2 separate regions of the Homo sapiens genome follow, and region 2 is reported to be linked to region 1. The links are microRNA targets in miRTarBase. Many come from high-throughput screens and were not tested one by one. Region 1 holds a microRNA gene; the other region holds the end of a gene's coding sequence.
The links. Region 1 holds the annotated microRNA hsa-miR-6855-5p (UUGGGGUUUGGGGUGCAGACAUUGC, at 2,890-2,914, opposite strand). A microRNA usually pairs through its seed, bases 2 to 8, with sites in the 3' UTR of a target mRNA and lowers its output. Matches are read on the target gene's strand: a 7mer-m8 pairs with bases 2 to 8, a 7mer-A1 pairs with bases 2 to 7 and ends in A, and an 8mer does both.

Region 2: the mRNA of ZNF24 is a reported target of hsa-miR-6855-5p. Seed matches in the 3' UTR shown: 7mer-m8 at 4,077-4,083.

What each region holds. Positions count from the first base shown.
Region 1 is chr9:129,867,143-129,872,523 of GRCh38, reverse strand. MIR6855 (microRNA 6855) reads right to left here and starts at 2,919; the gene lies at 2,853-2,919. It overlaps USP20 (ubiquitin specific peptidase 20), which reads right to left. Exons shown (of 26, transcript NM_001110303.4): 11 at 4,075-4,519; 12 at 3,522-3,662; 13 at 3,099-3,214; 14 at 2,680-2,852; 15 at 1,977-2,071. RefSeq lists an enhancer at 1,805-2,304.
Region 2 is chr18:35,332,672-35,338,052 of GRCh38, reverse strand. ZNF24 (zinc finger protein 24) reads left to right here. Exons shown (of 4, transcript NM_006965.4): 4 at 283-5,381. The coding sequence ends at 821. Among named protein-coding and RNA genes, the nearest start is that of ZNF24, 9.1 kb to the left of the region's middle.

The DNA.
Region 1 (5,381 bases):
CACCCTACAGGATGGGAGGACAGGGTTATAAGTCACGTATCTGGACACATAAAGAACTCCTCTAACTAACGAGGCCGGCACCGTGGCTCACACCTGTAATCCCAGCACTTTGGGAGGCCAAGGCAGCAAATCCATTTGAGGTCAGGAGTTCGAGACCAACCTGGCCAACATGGCAAAACCCCATCTCTACTAACAATACAAAAATTAGCCAGGTGTGGTGGCACGTGCCTATAATCCCAGCTACTCGGGAGGCTGAGATGGGAGGACTGCTTGCACCCAGGAGGCGGAGGCTGCAGTGAGCCAAGATCATGCCATTGCACTCCAGCCTGGGTGACAGAGTGAGACTCTGTCTCAAGAAAAAAAAGAATCCCTATAACAAGCAACAAAAAACAAAATAGGCAAAAGACTCACATAGATGTTTTTCCAAACACTTACAAATGGCCAACAAGCATATGAAAAGACACTTAACATCACTATCATTAGGAAATGCAAATCAAAACCACAACGAGGCTGGGTGCGGTGGCTCACGCCGGTAATCCCAGCACTTTGGGAGACCAAGGCAGGCGGATCACCTGAGGTCAGGAGTTCAAGACCAGCCTGGCCAACATGGTGAAACCCCATTCTACTAAAAATACAAAAATTAGCCAGCCGTGGTGGCATGTGCCTGTAATCCCAGCTACTCGGGAGGCTGAGGCAGGAGAATCGCTTAAACCCAGGAGGTGGAGGTTGCAATAAGCCGAGATCATGCCATTGCACTCCAGCCTGGGCGTCAAGAGAGAGACTCCGTCTCAAAAACAAAACAAAACAAAACAAAAAAAACGCACAATGAGATACCACCTCATACCCATGAGGTTGACTCCCATCAAAAAAGTAAACAAAATGAGTGTGGACGACGATGTGGAGAAACTGGAACTCTTGTGCGTCACTGGTGGGAATGTGAAATGGGGTGGCCACTGTGGAACCCAGTACGGTGGCTCCTCGAGAAATTAAAAATAGGCATAGACCCAAAGGGATGAAAGAAGAGAGGTGTGCACACCCATGGTCAGAGCAGCATTCCTCACAATAGCTAACAGGGAAGCGGCCTGAGTGTCCACTGACGGATGAACGAATAAGCAGAAAGGCCCCAGCCATCCACACAATGGAACAATAAATAACCAGCATACAAAAGGCAGGGCATTCCGACACACACGCTGCAACGTGGATGAACCCTAAGGACGTTATGCTCAGTAAAAGCCGTCAGTCACAAAATGGCAAGTACTGTATAATTCCACTTCTATGAGGCCTTTAGAGTAGTCACATTCACAGACTTGAATGTGGAGGTTGCCAGGGGCTGGGAGGTGGGAGTAGGGAGCTGTTTCACGGATACTGAGTTTCAGGTTTGCAAGATGTAAAAGTTCTGGAGATGAATGGGGAGGATGGCTGCGTGACCATGTGCATGTATTTAACACTACTCGACTGTGCACTTTCTGTTAAAAACAGCATTTACAATGGTTATGGTGGTAAATTTTACATTTTGTGTATTTTATCGCAATTGAAAATTGGAAATAAAAAAAAAAGAGAGAGTTTTCCCAAAGGTTTAGATGCCAAATAGCCAACGGAGAAAAAGAACAAGAACAGGAATGGGCAATGTTTAAATAAATACATAGAGCCAGTATATTTAACAAAAAATGTAGAAACTCATCAGTAATCAAGGAAATGAAAAATTAACATACATCATTTTTGCCCACCAAATTGGTAAAAATAAAAATAAGTGAACACTCAAGAGCTGCAAGATGATGGGGTTGGGATAGCACATGGCCCTGGTCCAGCGTGGCTGGCAGTGGGCGTGGGTATCTGATGGGATCAACCTTGGAAGCCAAGTCTAGCCTGGCTGTGCATCCCACAAGCCCTGGGCTGCATGCTGGCCTGCTGGGGTCTGCACATCCCCGTCCCCACAACCCTCCACCTCCCCGACCCTTGCCAGCCAGGCCCCTCACCCTTTAACTCATCAGCGGCAAAGAAGGCAGCAAGGCAGTCTTCCAGGGTGACGACAGGCCCCCAAAACCAGCTGGGGGTACAGGATACCACAAACCTACAGACAGAAAAGGAGTGCAGGGGTGCTGCCAGGGCCTGGGCAAGAACAGGAGCTGAAGGGACTCTGGCTGAGGTCTGTCAGGCCTGAGCCGCAGAAGGACCCTGAAGGCCCAGAGAAGCAGCCGGGCACGGCGGGTCGGGGCAGAGGCCTGGAGCCAGACACGTCCGTGTCCTGGGCCGAGTGACATCATCTCTCCGCAAGCCTGGCCTCCTTCATCTGTGTTGCGGCCATGATCATGCTACCCCCTCCCTGGGGTCATGCGGGTCTCTGGCCTCAGGCAGGAGAGGCAGCCCTGGGAAAGCTGCTGCCCTTCCCGCCAACCAGGCCTGTGTCCTGCTGCTGCCCTCCCTTCAACCTGCCATGTGGTCACCTCCCTGCTGTCCATCGCCCTCCAGCTCCAAGGGACTATCCAATCCTGGCCACTTCAAAGTAGCCAAGAAATCCCCTGCATATTAAGCCAACTCCTCTGCAGGCTTCGGCCCCCAGCTCCTCCCAGGACCTCCCTGGTTCCCCAAATGCATGGACTTCACTGTGTACTGTCTCCCGCCCAGGAAAACCAGGACAGGCCCAGCCCATGTCGCCCAGTAGTGGCAAGGTGGGCGCACCGTCGGATGTACTCCACAATGAAGGCCAGCCAGCCCTGGGCGGCATAGCTGTCCCCACAGGCGCCTGGCTTGGCCGGCACATTCTGGTAGATGGCTGAATGGAGCTTGGCCAGGTCCTCCTTTCCAGGAATGGGCAGTGATAAGTCCTGGAACGTTTCCACTGTGGTGGATACCTGTGGGGTTGAAGGTCAGTCTGCTGCCCATCCTCTGGCAATGTCTGCACCCCAAACCCCAAGCAGCAGGTGAGGGGCAGAGGGACTACTCCCCAGGCCATAGACACGGGATCCACGCAGGCAGGGCCCTCCCCTGGATAAAAGCAGGGAGCACCCGTGGAGAGCCCACCCTGCACCCAGTCAGGGCAAGAGCTGCTGAGGCCACTGGCAGCCTGGCCCAGCTCCCCCCATCCCTGGGGCACCCACCCGGTCACAGGTGAGACACTGCACAAGGCTGAGAATGGAGCCGTCAAAGATGTCTGAGATGACGCTGCGGTAGCGCTGCTCCTTCCGCCTCCGGCTGCCAGCACTCAATACCTGGGCTGGGGACACAGCACAGGACTAGCCCAGCCTCCACCTGCCTGGCCGGGGCGAGGTGCGGGCCCTGCGGCTTCCTTTGACAGGATGTGGAGTGACATCCGTGAGTCACATGACTGGGTAAGCAATTCACCATCTCATGCCTCTGTGTCATCCTCTGCAAAACGTGGCTCCCACACTGGTGTCTCAGGGGTGTACCTGAGAGGAGCCCATAGCCCGGCCCTCCGCCACAGGGGGCCATGAGAAAGGCAGCTACGGGCGTAATCTGTACTCCCAGCCTCAAGCTGACCCACCCTCCCGTGCCCCCCGAACCTTTCTTGAGCACGTACGACGGTGCCATCCTCACGGGGCTTGCACGAGGGGGGCTGCTAGACAGCTTGGCATGGCCCTCGTGGTGGTGGACGGGGCTGCAGGGGCGAGAGGAGCTGCGTAGGTGAGCATCATTGTCCGGCTCTGGGGGCAGAGAGGGTACCATGCTGGGCCAGGGCAGCCAGGCCAGCTCCACGAGTGGGCAGGAAGATGACCTGCCAGCCCCTCCTAAAGGGACGAAAGCCTGACCCTAATGTGTCTCCTCTGTCATGTGCCCACTCCTGGCCCCAGCACACAGGCCGGAGCAGACCTGTCCAATCCATGTCCGGCTGGAAGGCTCAGGGCTCTGGGAGAGGGCTCTGAATTGGGCTCCAGCATTATGAGCTAGGGGACCCTGGGCACATCACTGAGCCCCCCCGGAGGCTGACTTCCCCACTGTCATTCGGGTCTAGTGAAGAACCCGTCCCCCGGGGGCTACTGCAGGTCGGCGCTCAGCACCCGGTAGGTACTGGGCCATAGGCTGAGGTTCCTCCCGCAGTCCCCGGCCAGCTGATACCTGGCGTCCGGCAGGGGCTGGAGGACCGTGGTGACGGGGGCTGGGCCTCCGCGGGCTGGTCGTCAAGGGCAGCCATGGCAGTGTCCACATCAGCGTCCTCGTCCACTTGCTCCGAGTTTGTACGCTGCTGGCCCCAGGAGAACTTGCGGTCCTTCATCCGCTCCTTCTCAGAGATGGCTCGGCCCGCCTCATCTGGGATCAGCAGCTCCGTCTCGGCCTGCGAGCTGCCCCCGCCACGCCCCTGCCCGTCACCCTCACCCCGGTCACTGCTCGAGTCACAGGACAAGAACTCATCTTCTGATGGGCTCCGGTCACCCTCCCGTTTCTCATCCGTGTCACTCGAATCTGAGTCCCGAGCCTCCGTCAGCGCCACCGTGGCCACCACCGGCTCCTTGAGCTCCTCGTGCAGCTGGTCCATCAGGCAGCGAAGGAACTCTTGGGTGTCCTAGAACCAGGGGCTGCATCAACAGGGCTCCCCTGGAGGCAGGAGGAACCAGTCTCCAGCGCCCTGTGGCTGATGAGAGCGCCAGCCTCCATCTAGGAGGACCTCATGGGCGCCCCCTGCAGAAGAGTTGCTCACCCCCACAGCGGCCTCCCATGGCAGTCTGTCCTAACCCCATTCTTCTGAGGATAACAGTGAGGACTGGAGAGGCTAAAGGACACCTACCAGGACACACAGCTAGAAAGTGTCAGAGCCAGGTATGCACCTGGGTCCATGCAACTCCCCGGCTCCGGCTCTGAATCTCCTGCCTCTGCTGCAAGCTCAGCACGGGAGGGACAGAGAGGCAGTACCACATTAAGCCCGAGCCACCTTTCTCCCTACAGATGAGACCAGTGGAGGTGGGCAGGGGGGTGGCGGAAGGATGAGGGAGTGTGATGCCAAAAGAGGACTCACCCGAGTCCTGCCCCAAGCCACGCTACCCACAGGCCAGACTGCCTGCATGCTCTACCCTTCCTCTGGCTCCCCCTGCTCCCTCAGTCCCTGTGCCAGCCCCCACATACCCTCACTGCCTGCTCTCACCTTCCCACAGACCTGGTCATGACTCAGTCTAAGCTGCCCCTGCAGGCTGCCTGGGTCTCAAATCCCAGCAATGACCATTTTATCCTGACCACTCTGTGACTGGGCCACCAGCACAGCAGGAAGCCAAGGCAGCAGGGGCTCGGGCAGAGGCGCCCAGTGAGCCCCACTGAGATCTGTGTGCTCACACAGGGGGTGCACTGGGAGGTCAGAACGTGGTGGTGGCAGCAGACCCCAGCAGCTAGCGGGTGCTCGGGTGGTGCTGGGCATTGGAGAAGGACTTGGGTTC
Region 2 (5,381 bases), not on the chromosome of region 1:
CCTAACCATCTTAGAATCTACCATCTTTCTGACCTTTGTTTTCTGACTACCATTTGTAAACCACTTGCCTATGTTTTATTCAGATATCCCTTATATCATGATGTTATACTGTTATTCAGAGTAATTTCATTTTTTCTTTTTTGAGAATAGGCCTTAACACCAGTGTCAGAGTGGTTTATAGATGTGTGCTAGCTATTTTAGTTCATTAAAAAAAAAATTTTTTTTAGGTTTCTTTTCCCTTAATAGATAATGAATGATATTTACATTTTCTGTTTATTTCAGATGATGATGGTAGGACTGAAAATGGAGCACTAGCTCCAAAGCAGGAGCTTCCTTCAGCATTAGAATCCCATGAAGTTCCTGGCACTCTCAATATGGGTGTTCCTCAAATTTTTAAATATGGAGAAACCTGTTTCCCCAAGGGCAGGTTTGAAAGAAAGAGAAATCCCTCTCGAAAGAAACAACATATATGTGATGAATGTGGAAAACACTTCAGTCAGGGCTCAGCCCTTATTCTTCATCAAAGAATTCACAGTGGGGAGAAACCTTATGGATGTGTTGAGTGTGGGAAAGCATTCAGCCGAAGTTCCATTCTTGTGCAACACCAGAGAGTCCACACTGGAGAAAAACCTTACAAATGTCTTGAATGTGGGAAAGCCTTTAGCCAGAATTCGGGGCTTATTAATCATCAGAGAATCCATACTGGGGAGAAACCTTATGAATGCGTTCAGTGTGGGAAATCGTATAGTCAAAGCTCAAATCTTTTTAGACATCAGAGAAGACACAATGCAGAAAAACTTCTGAATGTTGTGAAAGTTTAAGAAATTGAAAAAAAAAAAAGAATCAGCACTCAGGTCTTTTTCTTCAGAAATGAAGACAAAATTTAAAATATGAAATGATGCAGAATAGTTTTTTCCCTATTGACTGTCAGAAAATCCACTGGGAAATGTAAAAATCTTCACTCACCATTATGATATTTATCTTGAAAGAAATGGTGTCATACCTGCCTAGAAACTGAAATTTTAAACTTAATTCAGGTCTTAATGCCTAAATTTTCCATGTGATGTTTATAGTCTGTATTACTTCTCCAAATAATGAACTACCTGATTCATTGTCCCTTTCTTGAAAGTTTCTTTTTTAAGACAAATACATTATTTCTGCATTGATCATTGAAATGTTCTTTATATGGATACATTCCCTTATATATTAAAAGGCAACAGGAATTACAAAGTCTGAAAACCATTTTAAACCATCTTTTAAAAATTTACCCTTATTTCCTTTTACCTAATTTGAATATGCATTTGAGAAAATAAGAGGATAAAGGATGGCTAAGAGCCTCAAAATGAACCATAAGATCTCAGATAAGAAGTGATGGTGATAAAACATCAAAAAGTGAATGGAACACCTTGATTGGGGAAGATATGCAAATACTTTGATCTAAGAATTGAAATGTATCAAGAATTTATATTTTGCCTGCAGGAAAATTCAAAAGCTACTCATCCTCTCTATAATTTGGAGTCATCTTACTAATGAAAATAATGTTTTCCCATATATTATTAAAAAGCATACAGTCTAAATAATAAACAGTTGTAAAATAATGAAGGTAGAAATTATAACACTAGGGAAAAATTTGTAGCGGATGGCAGTGTTGAAGGCAAATGTAAACATAAGGGTAATGGTCTGTCATGGCTTTTAGAAAAAGATGATAGAGTTCATCATTATTTTGCCTTCATCTTTGTTAAGGACAGAAAATTCCCTGACAGGTGGGCAAGTATCAGGTTACCTATTTTTTATTCCTTTGGTACAAAAGGGTTGAACGTCAGGCTAAAAAAGCAGCCATGCATTTATTATTAAACATTTTCTACCGACAAGGCACTGTGCTAGGTACTGTAATCCTACCATAAGTAGGTAGGTATTTCTTCCACTGTAAATCATAGGGGTTTGCTGTTTTATGTGAGTTAGCCTCTTCCCCTTGTCTGAGCATTCCTCAGGGGAGGTCACCTGTGAGGTTCCCAGAACTGTAGTTTTTTTTACCAGGGTGTTGTATTTGGAGGGGGAGGAGGACTCGGCTCAAAAGAGCTAGCTGGCTCTCCAGTGTTCAGAGGTGAGTCCACGATACTCTTACCACAATTTGGAAGTTTGTGAATCTTTTTAAAGAACTAATCAATCTCTAATAGCATTGAGGTTGTACCTACATATTAAGTTGAATGGACTGTTCTATTTAAAAAATAAACAACTAGACAATTAACTAGTTTATTAACCTATCACAATTGAATTTTTTTTTAATTTTCAGTCTTAACACATTTTTTAAAATGTATTAAAGTAATACATTGTAGTAGTAGGATTATATACTCCTTGGCTGAGAATTCCAAGTACTGTGGTTCTACTGTTTAGTGGAAAACTCTGGAAGTTAAAATATAGAATATGAGAGGAGGCTTTTTTATAATGGGCATCATTGTGTGGAAAATGACCCATGTGAATACAAATATTTCCTAGTTCAGAGATTTTGGTTATATCTGGTGCTTGGATCAAGTTTAAAAATGGAAGGTGAGATTTTGCATGAGCCTATTAAAAAGCATAGTAATAAATGCAAGGCCAGCTGGTGGAAAAGTGAGGCAGAATGGAGCTTGTTTATAGGTTTTCTGATAACAATTATAAAAAATGTGCTTTATAGATTAAGATTTATTGAAGTATAAATATGTAGTAATGATATAATGTATTTTAAGTTATACAAGAAAATGTAGGGACTTTTGTTTGGGTCTTTTTCTCTTTGTGGCTGAGGGGAAACAAGTCAGTGTCCAATAAAGCTGTAAACTCCTCTGCTCTAAGATAAATGATGTGATTTATTTATTTATAACTGGCTTCTTTCCAAGTAGGTTTTCAGGTGGCATATTTGGAAGACGGCTGGAATGACAGAATTCTTGTATCAGAGTAGGTAAGAAGGGAGCAACCTCTCAATGGCTATTATGTCATGCTTTTTAAGATCGTATGCGGTTCCTATATACAAGGAAGCTTCCCTGTGGTAGATTTGTCATAAATGCCAAAGATATTTGGTAATGTGAGTGTAGAAAAAGTAGTATGAGGGTTGGCAAATACTGTTTTTGTCTTGGCAGCTCTAATATCTGCATTGTTCAGAAAGGATTCTGAGGCTAAGGCAAAGCTCTGTGGGAAAAAGGGACTGGACCAAAAAAAACTGGATGGTGGCACACAAGAAGAGGAAATGATGAGATGTGTACTTTCTATCTCTGGTTAGGCTTAGTCCCCACTAGACAAATTGATTTTAAATACTATGTAGTGATTTTTAAATTCCATCCACACATTCATTACCCACACAGATAATCATAGAAATTTGGGGGAGTGCCTAGCTTCTGATGAAGTGGTGATATGGCAGTGCCAAGCAGTGGCATCGCCAGAGTATCTGTTTGGTTAGCAAATGAGCAGTCATTTTAGGTCATGCAGATTGCTGATATCTGCCCAGTAGCCACTGAGCATTTGCTGGTTTTTTCTTCTGGCTTTCTTGGAGGTTAAGCTCTCTGTAGTCATACCCAGTTGGTACTTGATCTTTAGCAATATGTCTCATATTCATGTAAATTGAAGGGAGGGTTACATGTACTGAAATAATCTGCATGCTAGGCATTGGCTTAGACACCGTACCTATCTCACTTAGATTTGTGGACTAGGAAAGCAAGATTCAGAGATCATGTGACTTGCATGTGGCCTAGAGATAAAATTCAAATCTGGTTCTGTAGACTCCAGGGACATATTCACCATGCCATGGGTGGTGGCTATTAAACCTTGATAAATTTGTGTTTATGGTTAACAAATGTGAAAGCTATTAAACATTGCTGGTTTGAATTTTTTACAGTGCAGAAATGTAAAATGAAAAAGGATATTTCCTTTCACAGTGTTACCGAGAAGTCATGATAATTTCGTTTGTTCTTCCAGATTTAGGCATATACTTATTTAATCAATAATGTGTTAACAGCTGACACCTGTGGTTGCTGTGACAGGCACTATTTGAAGTGCTTTATCATGGATTAACTCTTAATCCTCAGCTACCGTATAAAGTAGGACATAACCCCATTTCACATGCACTACACTGAGACTTGCCTCCTCTCCCCCCACATTGAAGATGTTCTTTTTTCATAACTATATACTATTCCATTGCATGAATATTCTGTAATTTATTTAATCCCCTATGGATTGATAATTAGGTTCATTATAGATAGAAGTGTAATTAACATTCCTGTACATGTATTTTGCTACTTGTGTGGGTATTTCTGTAGGATGAATAACTAGAAATTTATTGGATCAGGTTTCACATTTGCAGTTTTGAAAACTACTACCAAAAAGATTTCACCAATTTACAACTCCATCATTAGTAAGAATGCCTGTTTGCCTATAGTCTGCCAACCCTGAATCCTTAAAAATTTTTGCCAATCTGGTAGGCAAAATTTCTTTCTTTTCTTTGAATATTAATGAGGAGGAACATCTTTTCATGTTTCTTGGCCATTTGCATTTCCTATTATGAATTGCTTTTGCCCATTTTCCTTTTTTTAATTATGAAAGTCTAATGACTACCTTCTCATTGTATAAAAAACACAGTTCTTTGAATAGAGAGACCCTTTTCTCCAATGCTACCAATCACATTCCACTTACCACAGTTTAACATACATCCTCTAGTCACCTTTCCGTACGAATATACATACACATAAAAACACTTTTTACATAAATAGGATCTCATATTCTGTAGCTTTTTAAAATTTTGGTCTCAAAAAAAGATAACAGGTCTTTAAATTTCTTTAATGGTTGAATATGATTAAATACTATGAAAATGCCATTATTTATTCCCTTAATTTTTTTCCTCTCGCTATTACATTGCCAAAGTAAACATCCTATTCAGATGTCTTTGTGCATGTGTGTGAATATTTCTTTAGTCTGGAGTCCAGTAAGGTGGATTTTTGGATCAAAGGGTTTGTTCTCTGTCCACCTTCAGTCTTCCCAAAGGCCTTCATAACTGTATTTTCACCAAGTGTATGGAGAATGTTCATTTCCCCATATAACCATACCTACACTTGATAGTTTTTATCTGTTGGGCGAAAAAGAACCTTTTCTTATTTTGCATTTCCCTGATTATAAAAAAAAATGGTGAGATTGGGGTTATTTTCATGTTTATTGGCCATTTATAGTTTACTGTGGATTGTTTGTATCCCTTACCTGCTTTCTATTGGGTTATGTGTGGATATATTGTTTTTATTTGTTCAGCATCTCCTTCCCCATCTTCTGGTAACACAACCTTTATTTATTTGTGGGGAACCTATTCCCTGTGGCTTAGGTGAGCATGTGACCAGGCCTGGCCTCCTGAGTCCCACAGCTTCCTA